Linked DNA regions of Homo sapiens: region 2 is linked to region 1. The links come from fine-mapping of genetic effects on gene expression. A gene starts in region 1. The other region holds a variant in brackets. All regions are shown on one strand. Distances are from middle to middle.

The links. PIP is the estimated chance that this variant, and not a neighbour inherited with it, causes the effect.
Region 2: its variant is fine-mapped to the expression of TMEM88 in whole blood (TOPMed, PIP above 0.99).

The regions. Positions count from the first base shown.
Region 1 is chr17:7,854,083-7,856,582 of GRCh38, forward strand. TMEM88 (transmembrane protein 88) reads left to right here and starts at 984. Exons shown (of 2, transcript NM_203411.2): 1 at 984-1,202; 2 at 1,363-2,017. The coding sequence starts at 993. The coding sequence ends at 1,632. It overlaps KDM6B (lysine demethylase 6B), which reads left to right. Exons shown (of 24, transcript NM_001348716.2): 24 at 1-714. RefSeq lists an enhancer at 1,903-2,440.
Region 2 is chr17:7,877,464-7,880,489 of GRCh38, forward strand. It overlaps a transcript of NAA38 not described here. Among named protein-coding and RNA genes, the nearest start is that of CHD3, 9.8 kb to the right of the region's middle. The variant T/C (reference allele first, on the strand shown) is at 1,349.

The sequences.
Region 1 (2,500 bases):
TAACAGTCCCACTCACCTCTATTTATTCATTTTTGGGAAAACCCGACCTCCCACACCCCCAAGCCATCCTGCCCGCCCCTCCAGGGACCGCCCGTCGCCGGGCTCTCCCCGCGCCCCAGTGTGTGTCCGGGCCCGGCCCGACCGTCTCCACCCGTCCGCCCGCGGCTCCAGCCGGGTTCTCATGGTGCTCAAACCCGCTCCCCTCCCCTACGTCCTGCACTTTCTCGGACCAGTCCCCCCACTCCCGACCCGACCCCAGCCCCACCTGAGGGTGAGCAACTCCTGTACTGTAGGGGAAGAAGTGGGAACTGAAATGGTATTTTGTAAAAAAAATAAATAAAATAAAAAAATTAAAGGTTTTAAAGAAAGAACTATGAGGAAAAGGAACCCCGTCCTTCCCAGCCCCGGCCAACTTTAAAAAACACAGACCTTCACCCCCACCCCCTTTTCTTTTTAAGTGTGAAACAACCCAGGGCCAGGGCCTCACTGGGGCAGGGACACCCCGGGGTGAGTTTCTCTGGGGCTTTATTTTCGTTTTGTTGGTTGTTTTTTCTCCACGCTGGGGCTGCGGAGGGGTGGGGGGTTTACAGTCCCGCACCCTCGCACTGCACTGTCTCTCTGCCCCAGGGGCAGAGGGGTCTTCCCAACCCTACCCCTATTTTCGGTGATTTTTGTGTGAGAATATTAATATTAAAAATAAACGGAGAAAAAAAATCCTGTTTCGCTAACGGCTGGTGGTAGCAGGTTGAGTACCGGGAGGGCTGCAAGACCGTGATTGATGGGGAGGACTGCGCAGACCCTGGCGAGGGTGAGCCCCTCCCCGGAGGCGCCTGTGGAATGTCCAGGGCTCTGGTCCGCTCCTCGGGATGGGGGGTGCCTAATCCTAGAGCCGCATTCCAGGATAAGGGGGGTGGGGAGAGGCTGGGCCGGGGGAGGGGCAGGAAAGAGGGCTATAAGGGCAGCGGCCCAGGCGGGCGGGATCCAGGCGGGCCATGGCGGATGTCCCCGGGGCACAGCGAGCGGTTCCTGGTGACGGCCCAGAGCCCCGGGACCCCCTGGACTGTTGGGCCTGCGCTGTTCTTGTAACAGCCCAGAATCTGCTGGTGGCTGCCTTCAATCTTCTCCTGCTGGTGCTGGTGCTAGGGACCATCTTGCTACCCGCTGTCACCATGCTGGGCTTCGGCTTCCTCTGCCACTCTCAGGTGAGCGTGCGCCCCGGGGTGTGCGTGTGAGTGTGAGTGTTGGTGTGTGGTGATGCTGGCGGTGGGGTCTATGGGCCACAACTTCAACCCGCCTGGGCTGTTTCCACCCCGTGCACAGTATCGCCTGGTCGGCTTGGGCCTGACGCCTCTTCTCCCACAGTTCCTGCGCTCCCAGGCACCCCCTTGCACCGCGCACCTGCGGGACCCCGGTTTCACGGCCCTACTGGTCACCGGATTCCTGCTCCTCGTGCCGCTGCTCGTGCTTGCTCTGGCCAGCTACCGCCGCCTCTGCCTGCGCCTCCGCCTAGCCGATTGCCTCGTGCCCTACAGCCGAGCCCTTTATCGGCGTCGGCGCGCCCCGCAGCCGCGGCAAATCCGGGCCTCACCAGGGTCCCAGGCCGTTCCCACATCAGGAAAGGTCTGGGTCTAATGACCCTCGAGTCAAGAACAACCCTGACGGCTGCCCTCCCTCTTATTCGGCCCAAGGACTTGAAGCCCGGCATCTTCCGACCTGCCCTGCCCCCACCCCTGCCTGAGCGGAGTCCTAGCATCCCCTTGGGAGCAGCAGCGTCAGTGGACCCAGTGCTGAGAAAAGCCCCCACATCCCGGAAAACCCACTTTCCTTTCACGACCCACATCTCAATCCTGAACATCTAGGCTGGAACCTGCACACCTCCCCCTCAGCTCCGTCGTGAATGGGACAACAATCTCGTGCCCTCGTTTTATGGTGCAGCTTCTCTAGTATTTCTGGGGCTGGGGGGCGGGGCTGGAGGGGAAGGAGTGTCCACGCATCAATAAAGATTTAACGAACTGAACGCGCTCTGCGAACAGAGGCGTGGCACAAGTACTATCACCCCTGCCCTGTGCCGAGGAACAGGAAACATGTGCCAGGGCTACAAATGAGCAGAGAGGAGCATCCTTGAGCCCCCTGGCCTTATCGCTTTTGTCCGTTCTTCCTGGCCAGACCTCAGAGATCTGTTCCTGACCCCAGGCACCTCCCCCTCAATAGAGTGGAGGGGCCCAGCCTCGGCCGCCTGCCGCTGCTCCCCTTGGGGACCTGAGCCCGTTCTCTGACCCCAGCTTAGAGGAACTCGGTGTTGCCAGGCCGGGGTGGGAAACAATGGGCCTTCCGGAGCAGGATGACACCCCCTCCCGCCACAATTCTGGAGCAGCAGCCGTGGGAGGGAAGATGCAGGGGCCCACCCTGGGGCCTGTTGGTCCGTCATTCAGCCCTGCCCCCCATCTCTACCCCTGAACTTGAGAGAACCTTTGGCACCCCTGGACATCTTGGTTGGGAG
Region 2 (3,026 bases), 24 kb after region 1:
TTTCTTTTTAATGGCCTGCGACACAGCCCCAGGAAATCCTGAGAACATGTGCCCCAGTAACTCCTTTTTCTTAACTGCTGTGTAGTTTGTTTAGCTATTCCTTACTGTTGGAGATTTAGGGTGTTTCCAGTTTTTTGCTGTTACAAACAGTGTTGTAATGAATAGCTCTGTAATGTCACCCTATGCATAAGTATGGTGACTGTTTCTCTATAATAAATGGTGAGAAGTGGAACTCTGTGTCAAAAAACACTAAGTTTATAAGTATAACACATACTATTAAATTGGCCTTGCTAGTTTTGTGGCATAGTTGTTATAGTTAATAACAGTAATATATGTGACCATCAGTTTCACATATTAGTGTCCTTTAAAACTCTAGGACATCTCATTGACTTAAAACTCATGTAGTATATAGTAGAAGAACACTAGATTGGAAACCGAAAGATAAAAGTTCAAGTCCTGGTTCTGTCTCTAACTACTAACTTGATCTTAGGTAATCCTTTCAATATCTAGGCCCCAGTTTCTATACCTATAAAATTAGATTAAAGTGATATTTTCTAAAATATGTACCTATATTATTAGTAGCATGCAAGATGCTTTTACTTTTATTGATTTTTATTTTAACAATATTGCATTTTAAATTAGAAAGAAAAACATAATTACAGTATCAAATTAAAGACTTATGAATATTATTTCTAGCAATATAAAATTTACCTTTTAAAGAACATTCATTTAAGTTAAAGAAAGGTGAGTGATTTAAAGAAAAATAGTATGCATATAATGGTATAGCTGATATATAGATATGGCAAATCATGAATATGATATATGAAGGACTGAAGTTTCCTCCTTGATAAAATCAAGAACAGGTTAGATTAAAGCAGTAAATCCTAGACTTTTAGATTTTAATGATCAATAAAATGTAAAAAAAAAAAAAGTTAGTGATCAACATGGGGTTGCTGACTTTTCATTGTGCTGAGTAAGGACATTAAGAACAACAAAATTCATAATCTCAGCACTGTGGGAGGCCGAGGCAGGTGGATCACCTGAGGTCAGGAGCTCGAGACCAGCCTGGCCAACATGGTAAAACCCCGCCTCTGCTAGAAATCCAAAAAATTAGCCGGGTGTGGTGGTGGCACGCGCCTGTAATCCCAGCTACTCGGGAGGCTGAGGCAGGAGAATGGCTGAAACCCGGGAGGCAGAGGTTGCAGTGAGCTGAGATCGCGCCATTGCACTACAGTCTGGGCAACAAGGATGAAACTACGTCTCATAAAAAGATATTTAAAATTATTTAAAATGTTGTATAATTATAAAAGAAGTACATGTTGAAAATTTTCAGATTGTACAGTAAGTA[T/C]AAAAAGTCATTTTCTTATTCTTTTCCTCCCCCTTCCCCACTAAAATCTACTCACATTCTGCCATACAGATCTATCTCAGCTTTAGAAAGGAAGTTTTTAACATTATAAATATGTATATGTGTATATATGTTTAATAATATGTAACATAATTTATAACATAAAATATAAGCATATATACATATATTTATCCTATATAAATATACTGTATACTATATTTATTCTATGTAAAAATATATATCAGAAATATATCCTCTCAGAATAAAGGACAGACTTTTCCAGTAAAGGACATGTGGCAACCTTTCTTAGCCATTTGAGAACCACTGATTTATAAGACCTTCCATCTCTAAAATACTATGATTAGGTCTAGACTATCCTGAGTATTTACATGCCTTTCATTATTATCACTGACCTACATATTTCAAAAGACAATTAGGAATCTCTTTAACATATCCTTGGGTAGAAAATCATAGATTGCAAGTGTTTTTTCAGTCTTTTACTCTGCTTGTTGTATGAGTACATGTCTGTGCTCTATCACTGATTATCACTGGTTCCCTACATCAGAGTTTTAACCTGGGGTCCAAGACTTCAGGGTATTCGTAACACCGTGAAAACATATGTGACATTTTGTGTGTATTTTTTTTTTCTGGAGAAAGTTTCTAACTTTCTACGATCCTAAAAGGTTAGAAATTATTGCTTTAGATATGTTTCTTGCTTTTGCGTTAAATAATCTTATTCTTGGCTTGAGAGTCCCTTAAAAATTTTTCTTCATTTGCATTTCACAGCTGAATATTTGAGTTCTTTGTTCTCACCTTAATAGTCTTCTCATTAAAACAAAAAAAATATTCTCCTGTACCCATTAATCATAAGGAATTTAAATTTTTTATTTAATTTTTATTTTTTGAAGTACTGAAAGACAGAAGAAGGCAGAGACTGATGCCCCACAATGAAAGTGACAGGCAGGGAGACAAGCAGCTAGACAGTGAGACACACAGGCATAGATAAAAGGCCTAACGACAGAGAGACTACACAGGCAAAAGAAATATAGAGAAACCTGGAAACACAGAAGGAGAGATGCAAGAACTGAGCAGACAGAGAAGAGGGATGGCAGAAAAATAGGCTGGCAGGGAGGGAATGGAGATTGACTGACAGAGAAGGCAGGCAAAATCACCAAAAGGGATGCAGACAGGCAAACAGAGAGAGAGAGAAAGAGAGAAGAAGGGAAGACAGATAAAGGAAGAAAAAATAAGGTAAGAAGGAAGACAAAGTGATAATGGTGTTTTATACAACATAGTGCTTTATAATTTATAAAGTGCTATCACATACATTACTGCAGGCAGACAGGGAGAATCCAGCAGACAGATGGGGTGATGGAAGGATACAGGCCAATCAGACAGAAGAGAGGGGAGAGGGCCAATCAGAAAAAGAGGCTAGAATAGAGATCAAGACAGACAGATAAGAAGAAAGAACCAAGAAAAGAGAAGTAAGAGAGGGAAAGAGGGAAAGAGTGGAGAGACACAAAGATAGAGGCTGAAACAGTTAAACTCAGGAAAACAGGCAGTAAAAAAGCAGAAATGAAAGAACAGTGCATTGTGTGTAGAAGTTTTATTATCATCTTTTTCAAAGAGACCTGGTTAGAGGTTGTGTCTTTGTCTCCTTCAAAGAGTTATAAAATGTCTC